Linked DNA regions of Homo sapiens: all the other regions are linked to region 2. The links come from fine-mapping of genetic effects on gene expression. A gene starts in region 2. Each other region holds a variant in brackets. All regions are shown on one strand. Distances are from middle to middle.

What was found.
Region 1: its variant is fine-mapped to the expression of PTER in sun-exposed skin (GTEx, PIP 0.96).
Region 3: its variant is fine-mapped to the expression of PTER in whole blood (INTERVAL, PIP 0.92).
Region 4: its variant is fine-mapped to the expression of PTER in thyroid (GTEx, PIP above 0.99).
Region 5: its variant is fine-mapped to the expression of PTER in whole blood (INTERVAL, PIP above 0.99).
Region 6: its variant is fine-mapped to the expression of PTER in B cells (CEDAR, PIP 0.95).

Annotation. Positions count from the first base shown.
Region 1 is chr10:17,294,612-17,298,702 of GRCh38, forward strand. No RefSeq gene overlaps it. Among named protein-coding and RNA genes, the nearest start is that of VIM-AS1, 67 kb to the left of the region's middle. The variant T/C (reference allele first, on the strand shown) is at 2,381.
Region 2 is chr10:16,435,122-16,439,212 of GRCh38, forward strand. It overlaps PTER (phosphotriesterase related), which reads left to right and starts at 1,889. Exons shown (of 5, transcript NM_001261836.2): 1 at 1,889-1,926. RefSeq lists a silencer at 1,764-1,813 and enhancers at 2,234-2,413, 2,434-2,483.
Region 3 is chr10:16,464,447-16,468,537 of GRCh38, forward strand. The region is part of intron 1 of PTER (phosphotriesterase related); the gene reads left to right. Among named protein-coding and RNA genes, the nearest start is that of PTER, 29 kb to the left of the region's middle. RefSeq lists a silencer at 1,451-1,651. The variant G/A (reference allele first, on the strand shown) is at 1,598.
Region 4 is chr10:16,511,462-16,515,552 of GRCh38, forward strand. It overlaps PTER (phosphotriesterase related), which reads left to right. Exons shown (of 5, transcript NM_001261836.2): 5 at 1-2,284. C1QL3 (complement C1q like 3) reads right to left here. Exons shown (of 2, transcript NM_001010908.2): 2 at 2,273-3,246. The coding sequence ends at 3,067. Among named protein-coding and RNA genes, the nearest start is that of C1QL3, 8.4 kb to the right of the region's middle. The variant A/G (reference allele first, on the strand shown) is at 1,872.
Region 5 is chr10:16,412,686-16,416,776 of GRCh38, forward strand. No RefSeq gene overlaps it. Among named protein-coding and RNA genes, the nearest start is that of PTER, 22 kb to the right of the region's middle. The variant CTTT/C (reference allele first, on the strand shown) is at 2,026.
Region 6 is chr10:17,218,837-17,222,927 of GRCh38, forward strand. All of the region lies in intron 1 of VIM-AS1 (VIM antisense RNA 1), which reads right to left. Among named protein-coding and RNA genes, the nearest start is that of VIM, 7.4 kb to the right of the region's middle. The variant CA/C (reference allele first, on the strand shown) is at 1,914.

The DNA of each region.
Region 1 (4,091 bases), 860 kb after region 2:
TAGTAGGCATGTGGTCTTCTTCCCAATTTGTAGCAGTGACAGTTTTGCCAAAAGTTTGATTCAGCATGACAACTTTTCCAAGCCTTCCCTCCTGCCTTATCTACATTGCACGACCTTAAGGTAATTTTTTTTTTTTTTTTTTTTTTTTTTTTGAGACGGAGTCTCGCTCTGTCTCCCAGGCTGGAGTGTAGTGGCGCGATCTCGGCTCTCTGCAAGCTCTGCCTCCTGGGTTCACGCCATTCTCCTGCCTCAGCCTCCTGTGTAGCTGGGACTACAGGTGACCAACATCACGCCCGGCTAATTTTTTTGTATTTTTTTTTAGTAGAGACGGGGGTTTCACAGTGTTAACCAGGATGGTCTTGATCTCCTGACCTCGTGATCTGCCCACCTTGGCCTCCCAAAGTGCTGGGATTACAGGCGTGAGCCACCGCGCCCCGCCAGCCTTAAGGTAATTAAAAATAAGTGGAAAAAAAGAGGCAGGAGAGATAGAAAAAAAAAATTAACTGGTCTTGATGATTACATCTAGGAAAGAACACAGGTTTGGTTACTAACACAAGCAACTGATAGGAAGTAAAATTTCAGAGACTTTTCTTAAGTTTTTGAGGGAATCACATTGGCAGAGAAACCATAAACACAGAATAAAAAGATGTCTTTGCTCGTTCCTTAAAACATTACTTAGTCGCCAAATGAACCAAATGCATCTTTATACTTTTTCAAGGATTTAAACACAAAGTAGTTATTGGGCTTTTTTTTTTTAAGATGGAGTCTCGCTTCATCACCTAGGCTGGAGTGCAATGGCACAATCTCAGCTGGCTGCAATCTCTGCCTCGCAGGTTCAAGTGATTCTCCTGCCTCAGCCTCCTGAATGGCTGGGATAACAGGCGCCTGCCACCAGGCCCAGCTAATTTTTGTATTTTTAGTGGAGGCGGAGTTTCACCTTGTTGGCCTCAAACTCCTGACCTCAGGTGATCTACCTGCCTCAGCCTCCCAAAGTGCTGGGATTACAGGCGTGAGCCACCACACGTGGCCTGGATTTTTTTTTTTTTTTTTGAGACGAGTTCTTGTTCTGTCACCCAGGCTAGAGTGCAGCAGTGTGAACATGGCTCACTGCAGCCTGCTGGGCTCAAGCAATCCTCCCTTCTCAGCCTCCCAAGTAGCAGGGACTACCGGTGCTTGCCATTACACCCAGCTAACTTTTTAATCTTTTGTAGAGACAGGGTCTTGCCATGTTGCCCAGGCCAGTCTCAAACTCCTGGGCTCTAGTGATCTTCCTGTCTCAGCCTCCCAAAGTGCTAGGATTACCGGCATGAGCCACTGCACCTGGCCTGACTGAAATATCTTAACAATACTTGACTTATACTTTAAAAACAGTGCATTAATTTTGCCTCTCTTGAATGTCGATTAATATTTTAAAAATCCAGTCATTTGAATATATCTTTGAAAACAGTTCTATTATTTTATTTTGAAAAATGACTTCATTCAAGTATAGATTTCTAGAACCTATGAGAAGCTGCATTTCCCTGGAACAAAAATAATGTAGGGGAAGTCCAGGGTGCCTACTAAAAATTTCTGCGCTTGGAAATCAAAACTAAAAGACAACCATTTATATACCTCAAAAGAAAAAAGAATAAGATGCTTTACGATGTAGTCTTGATTAATTGCAGTTTAAATATAATGGCAGAAGTCTCTTTACATATATAATATTGACTTTATTTCACTACAAGTTACATTTGCGTACCGTCAGCTTTTAGGATGTTCTCATTGACACATCTCTGTTCCACACTTTTAGAGGTTATAAAAGGAATGTGTAGGCCTGGCACAGTGGCTCACACCTGTAATCCCAGCACACTGGGGAGTTGAGGGAGGTAGATTGCTTGAAGCCAGGAGTTGGAGACCAGCTTGGACAATATAGTGAGACCCCATCTCTACAAAAAAAAAAAAACACAAAAAACAAAAATTAGCTGGGCATGGTGGTGTGCACCTGTATCCCCAGCTACTTGGGAGGCTGAGACAGAAAGATTGCTTGAGCTCAGGAGCTGAAGGCTCCAGTGAGCTGTAATTGTTCCATTGCACTCCAGCCTGGGCAAGAGAGCAAGACCCTGTCTCAAAATAAAAAAAAAAAAACAGAAATGTGTGTGAGATAATAATAATAGTAATAAACAGCTATGGCTACATGTGTTGAGACCCTATGTGCTTCTCACTTTTCATGGCTCATTTACCCCACAGCCTTATGGGCAAGGCAACTCAAAGAAATAATTAACTGCATCTAAAATTAGTATTTATTTATTTAAATTTAGAGACAGAGTCTTGCTCTGTTGCCGAGGCTGAAATGCAGTGGTGCAGTCGTGGTTCCCTGCAGCCTCAAACTCCTGGGCTCAAG[T/C]GATCCCACCACCTGGGCCTCCCAAGTAGCTGGGGCTACAGGTGTGTGCCACCACAGTGGGCTAATTTTTTAAACTTTTTGTGGAGATGCAGTCTCACTACATTGTCCAGGCTGGTCTTGAACTCCTGGGCTCAAGCGATCCTCCCATCTTGGCCTCCCAAAGTCCTGAGATTTCAGGTGTGAGCCACGATGTCCAGCCCCATCCTGCCTTTAAAATGTCCTCCCCTCCCATCTTGTCTTGGACAAAGTAGTCATCACTGGTTTGTTGATTTGGGGGAATGAAAGAGAGAACTTTAGAGATGAGGACAGCCAACCTCTTAGGGCAGGCATCTCTGAGCTCTCTTCTGAGACCTGGCGGGTGGCTAAGCAGGCAGAGCCCTCAGCATGCCAAGGGACTTGAGTTCATCAACTCCGTGAATCTGACATATGGTTGAAATATTGGGAACAAAAAAAATATGCCAGCTTTAAGCTTTGAGACTGTAGATCTATGAAAAATAAAATGGGAATGACATCATTGTCTCATCAGGAATCTAGCTTCCGTGAAGTGTCTGGGGAAAGATGGATGTTATATTTAATGTCAGAAGTGCCAGTTCATACTGCTCTTTATTAAACGGAGGTGCTTTGCCATCCCCGTTGTCTCAGAGGTTGACAGGTCATACCTCCAAGTGCCTAATATTATACATACAATTTTACTGCCTTTCTACTGAGGAACTAGAATGAAAAGTCAAACTTGTTACCTGTGATGGGATGCTGTAATGTGGCTGGTTTGTTTTTGTGTCTGGCTGTATTACTCTGTTTTCATGCTGCTGATAAAGACATACCTGAGACTGGGTCATTTATAAAGAAAAGGAGGTTTAATGGACTCACAGTTACACGTGGCTGGGGAGGCCTCACAATCATGGCAGAAGGTGAAAGGCATGTCTTACGTGGCGGCAGGCCAGACAGCATGAGAACCAAGTGAAAGAGGTATCCACTTATAAAAGCATCAGATCTCATGAGACTTATTCACGACCATGAGAACAGTATGGGGGAAACTGCCCTCATGATTCAATGATCTCCTCCCAGGTCCCTCCCACAACACAAGGGAATTATGGGAGCCACAGTTCAAGATGAGATTTGAGTGGGGACACAGCAAAACCATGTCACTTGCCTTGCAACAGTGCCAAGGTTGAGAGCTCACAAAATACTTCCAGGTTCGTGGCTCGACCAGTAAATGTAGTGAAGTCCTTAAGGTCAGAATTCATTGATTCCAAATTTTATTATGCAGAAGAAAGAAAAACATCCTTGGAATACATGTCATAGGAAGCCTATAGAGTCCTCTGCTTGAAGATGTGTTAAAAACCAGTGTTCACCCCTTTGCTGGAAATGGAGAGAAGACAGGGGAACCCTAAAACCTTCCAGGGTTTTGTAATAATCCTGAGAAAGGCTGTGACAAAAATGAATGACCCTGACATTTTCTTAAGGCATACAGAAGAAACCAAAGACTTCTGAAGACCAAAGAATTCTGTTTTGTTTGATTCACTGCAGTAAATGTGTTGAATGATATTTTGGAAGAGAAAATCTGCTGACTCTCATCTCTTGCTCAATTTTCTAATTTGCATCCAGAGACCATGTAGGCTGCTTAAAAGCTAGCTAAAAATGAGTTATAATAATAAGAATTTTGTGAAGTATTTTCAGACTGTATTTCCTGACAAGTAAAATACCACTCACC
Region 2 (4,091 bases):
TTGTCTGTAATTGGAGGGAAATAGCTCCTGCCACATGCAGGTTGCTCAAAATCTTAAACAAAATAACATACACCCATTACAAAACCTGGTAGAGTTGGCCCCGATAAACATCATCTATTAATATTATTATTAAAACTCTACTTTCCTTTGAAATGACATCTGTAGCTTCTGCCCATCTGCATACCTATTCTCTTTTTTCTCAGAATTCAGGATAAAATTAATTGACTAGGCCTTGTGCTGTGGCTTATGCATGTAGTCCTAACACTTTGGGAGGCTGAGGTGGGAGGATCCTTTGAGCTTAGGAGTTTGAGACCAGGCTGGGCATCATAGCGAGACCTCCATCTCTACAAAAATTACAAATATTAGCTGAGTGTGGTGGTGCACACCTGTAGTCCCAGCTGCTCAGGAGGCTGAGGCAGGAGGATCCCTTGAGCCCAGGAGTTCAAGGCTGCAGTGAGCTATGACTGCACCACTGAAATCCATCCTGGGCAACAGAGCCATTTCAAAATAATAATAATAATAATTGATGACAGTGTAATATGGTTGGGGTTCAGAAAATGATACCCCAAAATGAAGGCCTTAGAAGCAGCTCTCTCTAACCTCATGTCCTCCTGCCTCTGGCCCCTCATTCTAGAAACTGGAATCCCTCTTCCCCAAGGTGATTCACAGAAGCCAGAACCCCTCATCCCCAAAGCCAAGCATAAAACCTAAAAGTTTGACTCTGCGTGTCCCCTGCCTTTCTGTGTCAAAACTGGCGGTAAAGAAATTCTCTGCCCTGCTTTGTTTGACTGTAGGTCATAAGACCCCCATTCCAGAAAGGATCCTGCTCTATACCCAGAAGGAAGGAACACTGCACAGAAAAGCCAAAAAGAATCTAAACAGACAGGGCTTGCTCACTTAGTCTATTGGCATTAGCTCAGACCCTTTTTATGCCATCGTAGTATCTCTTAGGTTGGTGCAGAAGTAATTGCGGTTTTTGCCATTAAAAACCGCAATTACTTTTGCACCAGCTGAATACATGGCGGTCCATACTTTATTGAACCTAAGCGAAAAAATGGACCGTTTCCCCTGCATCTTTGGGTTTTCATTCTGAAGGCTCCCGGATCACATAAAGTTACGATCTAGTATATTTGTATGCCTTTTCTACTGTGAAACTGTCTTTTGTCAGTTGATTTTCAGCAAACTTTCAGAGGACGAAGGAGAGGTTTGCCCTTGGCCCCCTACAATACCTAAAGGTATGACTCTTTACTGTGGCAGCTGCTCCAAGCATCATGTTTTGCCAACAGACTCACACATACTAAGTTTATTTCAGTCACAGCAAGTACCAGGGCCAGTTCAAGTGCTCTAGCACGGCACTCTAATTCTAAAGAGAAGGAAACGCGGCACCGGGGCAGGAAACAGTGACAAGTGGGAACACAAAAACCAAAGTTCTCCGTATGCAGCATGAGGATCCAGAACCCACTGTGACATCAAATTGCCAGAGCACCACCTCCGATTTATTCTTGGGGAAAACCAAAAGAGCTACGGAATGCTCCCTTGTTCCAGACTGTTCTATGGAGAACTGGGATCTGGGGAAAATGCAACAGTTTCTTTCCGTTTGGGGATCTAGCCCCGAATTTTTTTCATTCAGCCAAACTACCGACAGTCAGACAGCGCCTGCAGGAGGGTGTGGCCAGGCAAAAACGCGGGGAACGGCCCCGGACCAGGGTGGGGCGTGGCAAGGGTTTGAAGGGCGTGTCCTACGAAGAGGTAGGGCTTGGCAAGGACCCACGGGGCGTGTCCTAGGACTCGGTGAGGGCGTGACCTCGGGCCAGGGGCGGGGAGAGAACCAGAGGGCGAAGTGGGAGGGCACAGGGGAGACTAAAAAGGCCAGGGAAGTTGGCCTGCCGGAAGTTCCCAGGGAGAAGGCAGCGCGTTGTACCCGAGGTAAGGCTTCTTGGAGTCAGAGCAGGAGCCGGAACTGTGGGCCCAGTAGGAAGAGTGGGGCCCGACGGCGGAGGCCGCGCGGCCAGGGTTCGCTGCAGAGCTCCACGCGAGGGTCCTGCCGGAAGGAAGGATTTTCTAGCCGCTGCGCTTGGGCCCTGCCGCCTCTCCTTAAGTGCTTGAGGGACGTTGCAAAGAGCGCCAGTCCCGTGTGGCGCCAGCTCCCTGTGGCTCGACAGCAATGCCCGGGGGCGTCATCGGGTAGCTGTGCTAAGCCTCCTTTAATAAGCTTTTTTTTTTTTTTTTTTTTAGATTCAGGGTCTGGCTCTGCTTCCCAGGCTAGAGTGCATTTGGCGCGATCACAGCTCACTGCAGCCTCGACCTCCTGAGCTCAAGCGAACTTCCTGCCTCAGCCTCCTGAGCTTCCTGAGTAGCTGCGACTACAGGCACGTGCCACCATGTCCGGTTATTTTTGTATTTTTTGTAGAGAGTGTCTCGCCATGTTGCCCAGGCTGGTTTCGAACTCCTGGGCTCAATCAGTCTGCTGCCTCGGCCTCCCAAAGTGCTGGCATTACAGGTCTATATTTTTTGACAGTTTATAAAAGCCAATTACCAGCGGTCATATGTCTGAGTCCTGTGCACTCTTGCTTAATCCACTCTGCAGCCCTGTGAAGGATTCTAGTGATAACGACAAAGCTAAGGTACAGAAAAATTAGGCCACACTGCTGGAAAGTTTAGAGATGGAAACAAAGTTTAGAGGTGGAGTCTTTCTGACTCCACAGCCAGTGTGCTGTTACTCTCTTAGACTACCTCATTCTTTGTACATCCCAAGTCAACAGGAACTAAAGGTATACCCTTACATAGGCAGTAAGAGGGGTTGCTGATTTAAAGAACTTTGGACCCAGAAAGAGTAGAGCCCTATTCTAGTTCTGGTTCCAGCTCAGTGACTTTCTACAAGTTGGTTTTCTTTTGCTTTTTTTAAAGACAGAGTCTCGCCCTTGCCCAGGCTGGAGTGCAGTGGTGCGATCTCGGCTCACTGCAACCTCCGCCTCCCGGGATCAAGCGATTCTCTTGCCTCAGCCTTCTGAGTGGCTGGGACTACAGGCGCGCTCCACCACACACAGCTAATTTTTGTATTTTTAGTAGAGACGGGGTTTCACCATACTGGCCAGGCTGATCTCGAACTCCTGACCTTGTGATTCACCCACCTCGGCCTCCTAAAGTGCTGGGATTACAGGCGTAAGCCACCGCGCCCGGCCTCTTGCTTTTTAAGACTAGGTCTCATTATTTCACCAAAGCTGGAGTGCAGTGGTGCTATCACAGCTCACTGCAACCTTCACTTCCCCCGTTCAAGTGATCCTCCCAGCTCAGTCTCCCACAGGTGCACACCACCACGCCCGGCTAGTTTTTATTTTCTGTTTTTTGTTTTTTTTTTTGTATTTTTGGTAGAGACGGGGTTTTGCCATTTTGTCCAGGTTGGTGTCAAACTCCTGGGCTCAAATGATCTGGCTGCCTCGGCCTCCCAAAGTGCTAGGATTACAGGCGTGAGCCACTGCGCCTGGCCTGCCTGTTTTCTAGACACATTAAGGTGAGTGGTCTCAGGCCAGGCGCGGTGGCTCACACCTGTAATCCCGGCACTTTGGGAGGCTGAGGCAGGTGGATCACTTGAGGCCAGGAGTTCGAGACCAGCCTGGCCAACATGTGAAACCTCTTTTCTTCAAAAAATTAGCTGGGCATGGTGGTGGGCATGCCTGTAATCCCAGCTACTGGAGAGGCTGAGGCACGAGAATTGCTTGAACCTGGGAGGCAGAGGCGGCTGTGAGCTGAGATCACACCACTGCACTCCAGCCTGGGTGTCAGAGCAAGACTCTGTCTCAAAAAAAAAAAAAAAAAAGGTAAGTGGTCTCTAGGTCGCTAGTGGATGTAATAATCTATGGATTTATGAGGATAAGATCCTGATTTTACCATTTAATGATATTTTGGGCCAGTTTTTTTCCTTTTTAATTGGGCAGCCCTCAAACCAGAATAGATTGAGAGGGTCTTCCAGTTTTGGGTCATATTTGCTGCTGAAATTACAAGGTAGTCAGGAAGGGTCTGTTTATTCAATCAAAGATCAATAAATGTGTATTTTGGAGGTCAGTAGCGGAGTATCCAGCCAGAAGGTGGCT
Region 3 (4,091 bases), 29 kb after region 2:
GGGGGGAAAACAGTATTTATTTAGGCTTGTGTTTCCTGACTCGTCTCCTGGTCTCTGGTTTCTCCAGCTTTCAACCTGTATTCCAACTGCCTACTTAATGATCGCCCTTATGTAGTTCTCATCCTCTGGGCCAAGCCCTTGTGTCAGTATTTTTCACTGTAAGCTAATGTACAACCTACAATCAGCCTTTACGGGATGCTTTAAAGTCTGGAAACATGCTCCTCATTGCTCATATCATCAGAATGTCTCTGTGACAAGCCACCTCCTCCAGGAAGCCTTCTCATTCCTCCAGTATCAGTGAATGTTGTCCACACCGATCTCACAGGGCACTTGCTTTGTACCTGTATCCATCCATTTTCATGCTCCAGATAAAGACATACCTGAGACTGGGTAATTTATAAAGAAAGGAGGTTTAATTGACTCACTGTTCCACATGGCTGGGGAGGCCTCACAATCATGGTGGGAAGGGAAGGATGAGCAAAGTCACATCTTACATGGCAACAGGGAAGAGAGAACTCGTGCAGGGGAATTCCTCTTTATAAAACCATCAGATCTCGTGAGACTTAAACACTATCACGAGAATAGCATGAGAAAGACCCACCCCCATGATTCAAATACCTCCCACTGGGTCCCTCCATGACATATGGGAATTGTGGGAGCTACAATTCAAGATAAGATTTGGGTGGGGACACAGCCAAACCATATCAGTACCTCTCTCCTGACATTTACTGCACTCTGCTTTGTATCGTAAGTATCCTATGAATATATAAAAACGATGAGTGACTCATTGAATGCTTACCATATATGTGCTAAGGTAGGCACTGTGTTGGTGGCTCCTCTCCTAGGGCCAGGATTGTTTCTTTTTCATCTTCGTTTCCCTGCATATCTTCAGTTGAAGTTAGTAGATCCTCAGGAAACATTTGCAACATTAAATTGAAATGTATGCAGGTGAAATTAGCACGTTTGGAAAGCTGATTTCCTTGAATTCCCTTCCTATGCCCTGAGAACTTAAGACCGAAGTTGCCCCCTCAGATCTGTAAATCAAAGCAGTTTTTCTTAATATTTCAGGAAGCATAAAGATCATTGGTCACAAGCCTATAAAGAGGACATAATGCCAACGAAAACATAGGTTTGCTTGTGGCTGAAATTACATTCCATCAGTATGGAACTGAAGGGTGGATAGAACAGAAATATTTGCTCATTGGTTGAGCAGACATTTATTGATCATCTGCCTCTGTGCAATTGCTGTTTGTATTAGTTCATTCTCACACTGCTATAAAGATACTACCCAAGTCTGGGTAATTTATAATGGAAAGAGGTTTAATTGACTCATAGTTCTGCCTGGCTGGGGAGGCCTCAGGAAACGTAAAATTGTGGTGGAAGGGGAATCACGCATGTCTTACATGGCAGCAGGAGAGAGAGGGCAAGTGAGAGCAGGGAAAACTGCCTCATAAAACCATAAGATCTCATGAGAACCCACTAACTATCATGAGAACAGCATGGGGAAAACTGTCGCCATGCTCTAATCACCTCCCATCTGTTCCCTCCCTCAATATGTAGGGATTATGGGGATTACAATTTGAGATGAGATTTGGGT[G/A]GGGACGTGAAGCCAAACCATATCACTGTTATAGCTTAGAGTTGTACCTAGTGTTCCAAGTATGGGAATGGAGTTAGTTATCAAAACAAAATCTAGTTACAAGTACAACTCTCCTTTTCATCAATTATGGTGTTGACTTTCCCAGGCAGGTGTCCAGGCAGGCAGCAGACCAGAGCAAGGCAAGGGCTAGAGTCAGAATGGAAAAGTCTCTGAGCTCCCTGCTAGTGGCTGTCAGACCTTTTTCTGTTATAACTACCTTTTTTTTTTTTTTACACCAAACAGGCTAGGTTAGACCATCTAAAAACAGGTATCTGCACTGATTGTTTGTTTGAGACAGAATTTTGCCCTGTCACCCAGGTTGCAGTGCAGTGGCACCATCTCAGCTCACTGCAACCTCCGCCTCCCCAATTCAAGTGATTCTCATGACTCAGCCTCCCAAGTAACTGGGATTACAGGCATGGGCCACCACGCCCAGCTAATTTTTGTATTATTAGTAGAGATGGGGTCTTGCCATGTTGGCCAGGCTGGTCTCAAACTCCTGGCCTCAAGTGATCCGCCTGTCTCTGCCTCCCAAAGTGCTGGGCTTACAGGCATGAGCCACTGCACCTGGCCTGATTCTTTTCAACTCTGGATTAACAAAACGTGGTAGCCAAAATCAAGACTTTTCTTGGAGAGTCTACCGTGTGATCTTCAAAGGACCTGGGGAGACTTGTGTGGGAAATACCTTTTAGATATACTGTATTGTTATTTGTGCAACTGAATCATACAGCCTTTCTGTGATTCAAAGTTTATTTAAAAATTAAACGGCCTTAGCAAGAAATTCCTGAGGATGGTCTATACATTTAAAACATTTACCTAAGAGCCATTATCCAGTTTTACTTCTTATAAAGGAAGACCTATGGCCATGAGTCACTTGCAGTAACTTTACTAAGTATTTTTAGTTTTCTGATTTTCAGTTGACTTCCACCAATGCAGATAGGAAATGTCTTTGGAGATGAAGTCACTTGCTGTTATTTTTTTATATGCTCAAGATTCTGGCTCTTACACTACTGTCCCCTTATCCATGGTTTTGCTTTTTGTGGTTTCAGTTACCTGTAGTCAACCACAGTCTGAAAATATTAAGGTATTTTAAGACAGAAAGAGAGAGAGGAGAGAAACCGCATTCACGTAAGTTTTATTCCAGCATATTGTTATAATTCTTCTATTTTATTATTAGTTATTGTTGCTAATCTTTTACTGTGCCTAAATTATAAATTAAACTTTATCATAAGTATGTATATATGGGACAAAAACATAGTATCTACAGGGTTAGGTACTATTTGCGGTTTCACACATCCACTGGGGCCCCTGGAACAGATTTTCTTTGGATAAGAGGGCACTACTGTGGATAGTAAGGGAAAGTTAAAAAAACAAAAACAAAACATAAAAAGGCTATGTATTCCTATGTAGTTGGGTACAGAATAATAATCTAAAATAGCACATTTGCTGCCGGGCTCAGTGACTCATGCCTGTAATCCCAACACTTTGGGAGGTTGAGGTGGGTGGATCACCTGAGGTCAGGAGTTCGAGACCAGTCTGGCCTACATGGTGAAACGCAGTCTCTACTAAAAATACAAAAATTAGCCAGGTGTGGTAGTGGGTGCCTGTAATCCTAGCTACTCGGGAGGCTGACGCAGGAGAATTGCTTGAACCTGGAAGATGGAGGTTGCAGTGTGCAATTGCACTCCAGCCTGGGTTACATGAGTAAAATTATGTCTCAATAATAATAGTAAAATAAAATAGTATATTTGCTGCCTTCTGAGAACTTGGAGTGTGAAGATACAGGAAAGTTGAAAAAGCAAACCTGGCTTCAAAATCCAGAGCCCAAACACTTTGGGAAAAACATTTTCCATGCTTTTTAATAATTTTTAGCTCTTCCGATTTGGGAAAATAATGTCATATTCCGTAAAAGGGCTGTGCTGTGATCTCAGAATTATCTATTGTCAGAAATATATTAAATAAAGATTCCAAGAAAATGGCCAGGCATGGTGGCTCATGACTGTAATCCCAGCACTTTGGGAGGCTGAGGCAGGCGGATCACTTTAGGTCAGGAGTTTGAGACCAGCCTGGCCAACATGGCGAAACCCCGTCTCTACTAAAAATACAAAAATTAGCCGAGTGTGGTGGCAGACACCTGTAATCCTAGCTACTCGGAAGGCCGAGGCAGGAGAATCACTTGAACCAGGGAGGCAGAGGTTGCAGTGAGCCGAGATCAAACCACCGTACTCCAGCCTGGGTGACAGAGCAAAACTCCATCTCAAAACAAAAAACTTCCAGGAAAATGTTTAGCTCTTTTTTTTTTTTAGTGACTTTTAACCTCTATTAACTACACATTTTTGTTGTTCTTTTCTAGTGCTAATTCCACTTCTATTTATAATTCTTTGCTTCTGCTTTAATTTTTGTTTTCTTACTTTATTGTATGATTCCTTTGTGCGAGTCTCCTCAAACCCTTTGT
Region 4 (4,091 bases), 76 kb after region 2:
TATTTTAACTTAACAAAATAAATACAGAAGTACCTATTTCTAAACAATGATTTAAAGTCTATATCCCCTAAGCGGAGTTGTTGTTTTTCTCCCTAATCTATCAGCTGCACTACTTGAGAAAATTTAAAGTGTTTCTAGTTAAATTATTTCCTTCTTGAGCGATCTAATGTTTCTTGTAATATTGATGATCCTACTAATTATCCTGCTGTTCTTTAATTAATGCTTAATGAATAATATGGCACTGTAAAATAGCTTCTGCAACAAGGGAAGTTAAATTTTGAGACTTTTTTCCCCAAAGGATACTGACTGTAATACAATTACCAATTCACAATGATAAAAATATTTTGAAAGGTTAATTTTATACTGTCCACCTATCTATATATTCTTCTACTGAAATGATTTTGATATCTTTGGCTTTCCGGTATCTATTTTTGCCATACATTTTGCTGTTTTGCAAAGTTTGTATAAGAACACATAACACTACTGAATTATAAAAATTCAATCATAAAAGTCAAAATATATTACATAATATAGTTTAATGAATCATTACATTTATAATAACAAAGGCCACAATTTAATTAATTGGTAAGATATAATGCAAAAAAAAAAAGAGAAATGTTTGCCTTATGTATATTCCCTTTATTTCCTTTACCTTTTGTTTTTCCTTGGACCTAAACAGAGAAAATAATGCTTATGTATCTGAAGAAAAGGTCAGATCTATTGGAAATGACAGCCCGATACTTGAGCCTCCTCTTTAAAAGGTATCCAGCCCTGATATTTTGTGTAAATAAAATGTTTTTAAAACCTGTTAGTTAAAACACTTAGGTGATGGGCACTGCTGCTTATAAATTCATCTTTTGGTTGAATCCTCACTATGCTATTTGGTACCTAAAAATATTCTCCAAACCCTTGCTGCCAGTTCCTCTTTGATAAATATATAGTTAATTCGAAATAAAATCCATTGCAATTCATTTATGAGTTATCTTACATATCACAAAGACCAATTAGAATTAGTCATTATTCTTGATGAAGAGTCTGTTTTTAATCATAAAAATCATGACAGTTACTCAGACCCAGGCATTTCAACAGAGCTAACACCACCTTCAGATAGGCACACCATGCATAACTCTTGGGAAGTTGAGCTTTGCTAAATAAAAGATATTTCTGCTGATCAAAGATGATCAAGCTTTCTGTGTATTGGAACAGAAAGTAACAAAGAGGAATGAGCCAGGAGAACAAACTAATTCCTTTAAATAAATAAAAAAAAAAAATGCAAATGTCCTTCACCAGTAAAGCAAGCAAATTTTTAAAATCTCTGTTTTTGAAATCTACTCGTCAAAGAGTTTTCAGAGGCAATGAAAGGGGAACAGATTTTTCATTGTAATAGTGGAAGTTGTGTGATAGTTAGGAGATATCAACATGCATTTTTAATCTTTTCCTTAGATGAAAGAGATGGCTTTTGGCAGTGTGTTCTAACCAGAAAGAAAGGATTTGTATTACTCTCCAAATCTACTGTACTGTCAGCTTCACTCCACCTGAGAAAAAAGAAAAAAAAATTGATAGCTCAAATGCATGTAATTCATAAACACTGCAAAGGAGAGCCACTTGGTGTCTGCAGTCCTCATATTAACAGTCTGTCACAGAATGCAGTTAAAGTATTGATTGGCATATGGTAATAGAGCAACCATAGCCTTAACTTACAGACCTGTGAAATAAAGGGCATTTTGACCTAATACAATTAATTTTCTGGATAACTCTTAAAGAGAAGTCATTTTAACTGTTTTTGCTACTCCATATATTGTCATTCAAAATATATTTTAACCCAAAATAAGTTAAATAATTTGTGCATGTTTGTGTGTGTATATATGCAT[A/G]CACTTTTTTATATTAAAATTTTGAGGCTATACAGCCACTGTGCCCTGTGGAATAAAGCCATATATATAAATGTTTTATATGTATATGTTTTATACATAAATAAAACATTTCATCTAATATATATATGTGTGTGTGAGTATATGTGTGCATGTTTAGCAGATATTTGTATAAAATATAAACACTCTGTTGTCATATAGGCTATATGCGAAATTGTTAATTTTAAAATAACCTCAGGCCACAGACTTGTAGTAATCATTTGAAGGCCTCACCTAGTGTCCCCTTGGTGACGTATGCAGCAGCTCAAATTAAACCTTTGTGCATTGGGTTATGAATAATCTTTTCTTCCAAAGATGGCAAAAGCCTCGGTTTGATTTGATACTAAAGAATAAATTTCTCTGACTTTCCCAGTGAATCTAAATGTATTCAGTTGACAAAATGGACACATAAGGGCTTTTTCTAAATACCGTACATAATTACACATTTTCACACTTAGAGGGTAATCCTATGATACACTGTCAATCTCTATTTTTAAAGACTATCACCAGAAAAGAGAGAAAAGAAAATTCATATAAGAAAAAGAAAATGTGAAAAAGATCATAGGCTTGGGAATTCCCTCAAATCCAGAAAATTCCAGGTTAAGGCTTGAAGTTGAATCATTCCCAGGTCTAGCTCTAAGGTTAACAAGAGTACAAGGCAAACAATTTCTTTGGGGACAAGCAGCATTATTTCAATTAGACCTTCTCCTGCAGGGCAAAAATCATTCTTCCCCACACTATGAATGGACTCCAAGTATCATAATAAGCAGGTAAACTCACAAGAACCAAAGCTGACATATGGATAAAAGCAGCAAGATCACAGTACACCAAAGTATCATATATATAGAAGAAATAATTCAATGTCTTAGATTTGTCTATAAAAATTTGTGATCTATATAGGACTTCATTCACATGGACACTAACGATAAGGAGTATTTGCTTTGGCGGTAGTGGATCACACATCTGCTTATCTTGCTTTGATATTTTTTACATAATGTTTCTGAGTGATACAGATGTGAGTCAGGTAGCATTTGATTTCCCCACATATACACAACTGAGGTGCCCTGCCATTGGCATCCCCTGGGATCCTTGATTCACTGACGTTAGCCATACGAATCCAGTGTTCAAACTCAGAATAATAAGCTTAGTTTCTGCATTATCAGTCAGCATAAATAATAAATCCAGAAAACGTGCTGTATTTGTTGTTGTTTCCTCCATGGGCTTTCCCGCCATCTAATTTGATATAGACTTCATCTCCCGGCTCCAAATGAAGAACCACACTGTTACTGGCATAGTCGTAATTCTGATCAGCATCTTGGGCAATTGCACTAGCACGCACCTATGTGAAACAGACAAGAATTAGGATGCGTAAATGAGAATTCTCAAGTTTTCTTTTTTGCCATTCATGTAGCATCACAAGCTGACTTGCTGCCATAGTACAGAATTTAGCATAGCAAAGTCCATGTTGACCTCAGAGCTTTATGAGGATAGTGCTGTGGCAGTTTCCGCTACGTTAGTGAGAAGGAGGACAGAAAGGGACAAAATAGTGCTTCAGTGGGGACCATTCTGGCAGTCTTATCTAACTACACATTCTAAACTATGCATACAATTTATTATCTTCCTGTATCACTCGTTTTTCTAACTCCTTCGATCCCTATGCCCAATCACATTTTGAAATGAAACTAATAGTATTTTTTGCATTTTAATTTAAGCCAGATAGCAATATTCTAATCAGCTGTTTATGAGTACAGAAGTTCAAGTCTAAGTTCAGCTGTTCACCACAATTATTAGAAAATTGAGGTATGTAATAGCTAAAAATACCCAGGAAAATACCAACTCCTCTACTACTTACAAAGAAAAAAAAAAAAAAGAAAAAGTCTTTTGATTTAGGGCTTTCCAAATCTAATTCATGTAAAGCCCCCTTTACCAGGCTGCTTCAGAAGCTTAGCTCATTTATACATCTTTGATTATATCACCTGAGTTTTCAGAGTTCTTTTTTCCATCGTGTCTTTTTATTACTTAACTATGACATGTGCATTTAAATCAAGAATTTAACCTCAACATATCTAAAAGTTAAAGAAAGGACTAAATTTTCATGCTCTGAGGCCTCTCAAGTTTCAAGAATTTTTGAATGATTTCGTTGAATATCCACTTACACTTAGGAGATTCTAAATATGTGGCTTG
Region 5 (4,091 bases), 22 kb before region 2:
AGGAAGGGAGAAAGGGAGAGAAGGAGAGAGAGAGAAAGGGAGAAAAAGAGAGAGAGAGAAAGGGAGGAAGGGAGAGAAAGAGAAAGAAAAAAAGGAAGGAAGGAAGGAAGGAAGGAAGAAAGAAAGGAAGGAAGGAAGGAAGGAAGGAAGGAAGGAAGAAAGAAAGAAAGAAAGAAAGAAAGAAAGAAAGAAAGAAAGAAAGAAAGAAAGAAAATGCTCTTTTTTTTTTTTAAAGACAGATGAGGTCTTGTTGTGTTGTCCAGGCTGATTTTGAACTCCTGAGCTGAGCTCAAGTGACCCTCCCACATCAGACCTCCCAAGTGCTCAGATTGCAGGCATGAGCCACTATACTGGGCCCCTGGACTGGCTCCGTTGTCCTTTGTTGCTTAGTCTCCTTTTCCTCCTATTTAGACCTTCTTACCTGCCTTCCTGCCTTCCTGCCTTCCTGACAGTTGTTGTTACTGGATATCCATTCATAAAAATGGCTGCTTTACAGCTTAAATCCACCAGGGTTTTACACAAGTTCCATAACCCATCCCAATAGAGCACAGGCACTATTGAATTTGCTAAATCATAAGGTCCACGTGAAAGAATTTCTTCTACTGCAGCTTTGATCAGCTAGAAAGTTTCTCTTTCCTTCTCCTCCTGGTAAATAAGAGGCGAAAAAGAAAACTTCCCTGAATTTTTTTCGGTGTTTCTATAAGAAGCCCTAGCCTTCATCTGTAGCCATTTGTCTAGTTAATTGTTCTGATCGGAAACAGTACTAACTTCTCTTATCTCCCCAGGTGAACCAAAGAGTTACAGCCTGAGTAGGTACCTTAGGCTGAGCCCAAGTTGCAAGAGAAGCAGCAATACTACATTTCTAGGTATCTGCATTTCAGAGAGAAACAAGGCTGGGAATTTTTTTTTTTTTTTTTTTTTTTTTGGAGACAGAGTCTCTCTCTGTTGCCCAGGCTGGAGTGCAGTGGTGCAATCTCGCCTCACTGCAACCTCGGCCTCCAGGGTTCAAGCAATTCTCATGCTTCAGCCTCCCAAGTAGCTGCAATTACAGGCCTGCACCACCATGCCCAACTAATTTTTGTATTTTTGGTAGAAATGGAGTTTCACCATGTTGGCCAGGTTGGTCTCGAACTCCTGGTCTCAAGTGATCAGCCTGCCTTGGCCTCCCAAAATGCTGGAATTACAGGTGTGAGCCACCACATCCTGCCAAGGCTGGGAATTTAAAGAAGTCTCAAGATCATTAAGGCAGAGACACCCAAGCTATCCAGCTTCTGGCTAGATTTTATTTCCACACAAAAGGATTGGATAAGGAGGAGACTTTCTCAGGAGCGGAGGGGGCAACTGCCTCCTACCCTTTTAGGAACAGGAGAAATCAGTTTCCTTGTTCTTGCCTTCTCCTGTAGGACAATTGACCTGGCTCTCATCACGTTACCTCAGGAGTAAGACTGAAGCTAGGGGTACCAGCGCACTTATTACATTTACTATGAGGTGTTTGATATGAAATCTATCTCTGATCCAGAATTCTGCATGCATATATTTAGGATACATTTTATAAAGATAAATATTAACAACTTGACAATAAGATACAGGCAGAGTTTCTCAAAGTGCATTTGCAGACCTCTTGCATGAAAACCATCAGAGGGAGTTGGGGTGGGGGTGAGGATAGGAGGGGTAGCTTCATCTGTTTTTGCTTTTTTGTGTGTGTTTTTTGAGCTCCCTCTGCCTCCCAGCCTGGGAGTACAGTTTCACAATAACGACCCACTGTAGCCTAGACCTCTGTGGCTCAAGCAATCCTCCTGCCTCAGCCCACTGAGTAACCGGAGCTATAGGCACGCACCACCGTGCCTGGCTAATTTTTGTATTTTTTGTGGAGATGAGGGTGAGGAGGTGGGTGGGGGGGGTGGGTCTCACTATGTTACCCAGGCTGGTCTCAAACTTGGGGCCTCAAGCAATTCTCCTGCCTTGGCCTACCAAAGTGCTCAGATTATGGACATAAGTCACAGCCCCAGTCAGGGGTCATGATTT[CTTT/C]TTTTTTTTTTTTTTTTTTTTGAGATGGAGTCTTCCTCTGTCACCCAGGCTGGAGTGCAGTGGCGCGATCTTGACTTACTGCAACCTCCGACCCCCAGCTCCCCCCACCTCCCGCCTCCCCTGGTTTCAAGCCATTCTCATGCCTCAGCCTCACGAGTTGCTGGGATTACAGGCATGTGCCACCACACCCGGCTATTTTTTTTGTATTTTTTGTAGAAAAGAAGTTTCGCCCTGTTGGCCAGGCTGGTCTTGAACTCCTGACCTCAGGTGGTACACCTGCCTCGGCCTCCCAAAGTGCTGGGATTACAGGCATGAGCCACCACACTTGGCCAAGGGGTCATGATTTTTGACTGGGAAAATTATTAAGCCTAAATGAATGCATTAGAATCTCTTGGTGCGGAACCCACTGATATGCATTTTAACCCATAGGCCCAGGTCATCCTATGCCCACCCTTTTTCCTGTGGTATCCTTTTTCTGAAAAGTCCCTGTTCTCCTGGGTTAGTATAAATATTCACTAAAAGGTATTGTGGTCAGTTTGAATGTGCTTTGTAATTTTTAACAATGATAAACTTCTGTTTAACTCTGGGTTAAACAGAAAACATTTTCATTTCAATCCTTGTTATTGAACAACTTTCCCAAATGCATTAACTCTTTTCTTAGAAGGTAGAAAATATTATTTAGCTTGTTCTCATGAATCTAGGGTCAGCCAGTGTTTGAGGATGAGCATTCAAAACTCCAGTTCTTTCACCGGAGCATGGGGACAGAGGCACTGTGAGGCTCGTTGGCATACTGGCATGGGGCCACAGTTATGTTTTATTATGTTTTCTTTTTTTTTGAGATGGAGTCTCACTCTGTGGCCCAGGCTGGAGTGTAGTGGCACAATCTCAGCTCACTGCAACCTCCGCCACTCGGGTTCAATAGATTCTCTTGCCTCGGCCTCCCGAGTAGCTGGGATTAAAGGCATGCACCACCACGCCTGGCTAATTTTTGTATTTTTAGTAGAGACGGGGTTTCACTATGTTATCCAGGCTGGTCTCGAATTCCTGGCCTCAGGTGATCCACCCGCCTTGGCCCCTCAAAGTGCTAGGATTACAGGTGTGAGCCACCACACCTGACCTACCTTTTCTAATCAGAACAGCTTGCTTTCTATAACTTTTCCCCCAAAAGAAATTTGAATTACAGTATAATAATAGCAATTTGATCTGCTTCGTATTTATGTTATATAATACTTTCACACTATGATAATCCGTAAAATTTACTATATGCCCAGTATATTTTTCCAGTAAACAGACTGAGTGGAGTTTATCAAAACTCTCACTTAGCAGAATTTGACCTGTACATCTTTAAAACTATAGTTTTTATGAGCAATATTTGAAAGTTCTGAGCAATATTTTTTAAAAGTCATATTTATTTATTTGTTTATTTTTTATTTTTTTTGAGACAGAGTCTCACTCTGTCACCCAAGCTGGAGTGCAGTGCGTGATCTTGGCTCACTGCAACCTCTGCCTCCCCGGTTCAAGCAATTCTCCTGCCTCAGCCTCCCAAGTAGCTGGGATTACAGGCATGCACCACCACATCTGACTGATTTTTGTATTTTTTGGTAGAGACAAGATTTCACCATGTTGGCCAGGCTGGTCTTAAACTCTCGACCTCGAGTGATCCGCCTGCCTCGGCCTCCCAAATTGCTGGGATTACAGGCATGAGGAAAGTCATGTTAAAGTGTAAGGAAATACAGACAAATATTAATGTCTTTTACATTGTTTTAGAACAAAATTAAGCTTCTAATGTGTGCCATTTTTACCATTTCTTGTTTGTTGTGGTTTTTGGAGAACAATATCTTTCCCCATAAATTCTTAAATAATGTTCAAGAAAAGTACTGTGTGATGGATGAATCTACTTTTCTTTAGTAAACTATTCCATGAGTACTTCCTTTGTAAACCAGTACATACTATTTACTTTTCACCAGAAATTACACACCCTAGAGTAATTTAAACTAACACATGCTTGTGCTTCTATTAAGGTTTTTATTTCTAATCTCTTCCCAATTTATAGAGGAATAAAA
Region 6 (4,091 bases), 780 kb after region 2:
TAATCCCAGCTATTTGGGAGGCTGAGGCAGGAGAATCGCCTGAACTTGGGAGGCAGAGGTTGGAGCTGAGATAGTGCCACTGCACTCCAGCCTGGGCAACAGAGTGAGACTCTGTCTTAAAAAAAGAAAAAGAAAAACCCTGATCAAACACATAAATATCTCTGCAGCGTATTCTATCACACCTGTCTGAAGTTCTAGAGATGCCATTCAAGTAAATTACAATATTGTATCGGAAAAACTTCTCATAATTTATGTCTCAAACAACATGTACTTAATCTATATTAAGCTTGAGTACCACAGAATTTTTTTGTCCATATGCCACATATCCATATGAGTCACATTAGAGAACATATTTCTAGTACTTAGCTAATTAGAAATACAAAACCTTATTCAGTGGTTTGGAAATCGTCATGGTAGAATTACAAAGAGGGCTGCCAAATCCTTTATTCTGCTAGTTAACTCTGAATGGTCTTTCTTTACTTATATCTCATTGTAATGTTAATGAATTTTCTTATCTTTTCATCCTTGCATATTGTCATTATGTCATTTTATATTTCCTTCCATTTGCTACATGGCTTCATTTAGGGTTACTTTGTGTTATTTTTTTTCTAGAATTTGTCTTTGATTTTCATTTCCAACCTCTGCAAATCACACTGATCTTTGTCACTATACACAAAAACCAAAGCTTGAGAGGTTTATTTTAAACTCTGAGTTTATCAAACATATTCACAATTAAATATAATATTTAATATACTGAAGAAAATCATTTCACTGGCTGAGTGAATGTGATATGCCAGAGTTAAAGTATCTCCCAATTGTCCATTTTTGAAAATATCAGTCAATTCATTAATCAGTTTTGAAATACATAAGATGGAGTTCCATTATATTTTGCAGATTTAGAGGAAAGAGATTATGACTATATAGATGGTCAATAATCCCCTTCCAATGTCGCAGGTTACCATAAAGGCAAATAAAAATTTACATTATAAATTTATCTGTTCTTTAAAAGAAAATTAATAAACTGATATGCACATCAATAGGAGACTGGCTAAGGAAAATGTGGTACATATACACCATGGAATACAATGCAACCATGAAAAAGAACATCAGCCAGGCACGGTGGCTCACGCCTGTAATCCCAGCACTTTGGGAGGCCAAGGTGGGCAGATCACCTGAGGTCAGGAGTTCGAGACCAGCCTGGCCAATATGATGAAACCCCGTCTCTACTAAAACACAAAAATTAGCCAGGCATGGTGGCATGCACCTCTAATCCCAGCTACTTGGGAGGCTGAGGCAGGAGAATTGCTTGAACCTGGGAGGCAGAGGTTGCAGTCAGCCAAGATCGTGCCACTGTACTCCAACCTGGGAGACAGTGAGACTCTGTCTCAAAAAAAAAAAAAAAAAAAGAGATCATGTCCTTTGCAGGAACATGGATGCAGCTGGAGACCATCATCCTTAGCAAACTAATGCAGGAACAGAAAAGCAAATACTGCATGTTGTCACTTATAAGTGGGAGGTAAGATGAGAACACATGGACACAAAGAGGGGAACAATAGACACTGGGGCCTACTTGAGGGTGGAGGGTGGGAGGAGGGAGAAGATAAGAAAAAATAACTATTGGATACTAAGCTTAATACCTGAGTGATGAAATCAGCCATACAACAAACCCACATGACACGAATTTACCTACATAACAAACCTGCACATGTACCCTTGAACCTAAAATAAAAGTTAAAAAAGAAAATTGTGCTATTAAACAAAATTATTATTAGGTCCCTTACCTAAATATCTTGAGAAAAAAAATTCTACCACTGGGGAACTACATGACCTCCTCAAAGTAGGCAGAGTAAATTCCCAAGACGCCAATTGCACTTGGCAAATTTTCTAGCTGTGGCATAATCTTTTTCTGTCTA[CA/C]AAAAAAAAAAAAAAAAAAAAAAAAAAAGGAAAAACAACATTATAGGCCACTGGGCAAATACCTGCTAGTTTTCTTATGGTAGTCTAACTCAGCCAGTAACTAAACTGGGATGATGTCATTCAGGGCTCTTTCAAGTGACATGAGGTTTTTATAACTGGATTGATGGGTTTTTTGTTTGTTTTTGGTTGTTACTGTTTTTTGATCAAGTGAACTAATACTGAAAATCTGGCTTTAATTCTTTGTCCAACATCAGCTGGAACTTATTTTTGCACTAGATTTCTCCTCCATTTGTTAATTAAACTCTTGTGTTCCCCCTACATACTTACCACCTTCTCTTTCCTCTGTCATAGACTGTGAATTAGACATTGATGAAGTTAAAAAATCACTTATAGTCTACAGGGAATTGTTAGCTATGTTTTCCCCCTCAAATGTTCAAAGATACCTCCCAGAAAGTGTCTTTAAGGTTTTTCTTTCCCTTCTGATGTTTTAAACACTGTTTTAGAGAATCGTGATGTTCATGATTTTATACTAGCTATGGGAACAAGACTAACACACTCAAAGCAGCTAAATGACAATAAAAGACCATCTACTTTATTCCTTTAAGGGAAGAGATTAGAAGTGCTTAGAAATGCTGTAGACCCTGGGCTATGGTCTGATAGTGGTCGGTGGGTATTAGATTCTTGTAGGAGCGTGAACCCCACTGTGAACTGTGCATACCAGGGATCCAGGTTGTGCGCTCTTTACGAGAACATAACGCCTGATGATCCGTCATTGTCTCCCATCATCCCCAGATGGGACCATATAGTTGCAGGAAAACCAGCTCAGGGCTCCCACTGATTTTACATTATGGTGAGTTGTATAATTATTTCATTATATATTACAATGTAATAATAATAGAAATGTTTGAATCATCCTGAAACCATCCCCCTGCCTGGTCCATGGAAAAATTGTCTTCCATGGAATCGGTCCCTGGTGCCAAAAAGGCTGGAGACCACTGCTGCATAATGTAAAACCACACTATCCAATTATAGCTCACCTTCATGAGACTATAATTTATATAGACTAGAGAAGGGAAGATATTTCCAGGTTAAGGGACCTGAATTAACCGTCTTTCAACTCAAATTAACTTTCCAACTAATTATTTCTGTCTGGAATGCATCTATTCTTTCTTTTTTCTTCTTTTTTTTTTTTTTTTTTTTTTTGAGATGGAGCCTCATTCTGTCGCCAGGCTGGAGTACAGGGGCACAATCTCGGCTCACTGCAACCTCCGCCTCCTGGGTTCAAGTGATTCTCCTGCTCCAACCTCCCTAGTAGCTGGGACTACAGGCGGGCACCACCAGGCCCAGCTAATTTTTGTATTTTTAGTAGAGACAGGGTTTCACGATGTTAACCAGGATGGTCTCCATCTCTTGAACTCATGATCCACCCGCCTGGGTCTCCCAAAGTGCTGGGATTACAGGCGTGAGCCACTGCGCCCAGCCGCATCTATTCTTTTAATTATCCTGTTCACAAGGCTCAGAGCCCACTCGATTTTTCTTATCCCCTAGCCCTTAAACATCACAATTCCTTAAATCATCTCCGCGTCAGGCTCCCTTTACCATCCACTTGATCTACCTCAAGCAGACCTCAAATCAGCCTCATTCTCCACCCCTAAAATACAGCTACAAGCATGTCTTTCTCCTAGTTGAAATTCACAATGCATTCCCTCTGCCCACCACATTAATTATCAACTCCTTTTCCTGGCATTTACTCATCCAACGCATGGCCCCACGTTAACTTTCAGTTCCCTTTCTCCCCTACAAATACTCCATAATCCAGCAACCCTGGGATTATTCCTGTTCCCTAAATGTCCTCAGCACTCTGCCACCCACCCAGTTTTTGCTTATACTGTTTGGTCAGCACTAGAGCAACCTTTCTTTGCCATGATAAGCTGTAGAAATTGTACTTATTCTTCAAATACTATCTTTTCTAATGACATTTTCTGTTCTCCCCCAAGTAGATAGGATCATTTTTTTTCTCAACAAAATTTAACTTATTTTTAGGTATAGTATTATAGTTTTTTTTTTTAATTTAGATTTAGGGGGTACATGTGCAAGTTTGTTACATAGGTATGTTGTGTGATACTGAGGTTTGGGCTTCTAATGATATCGTTGCCCAAATAGTGACCATAGTACTC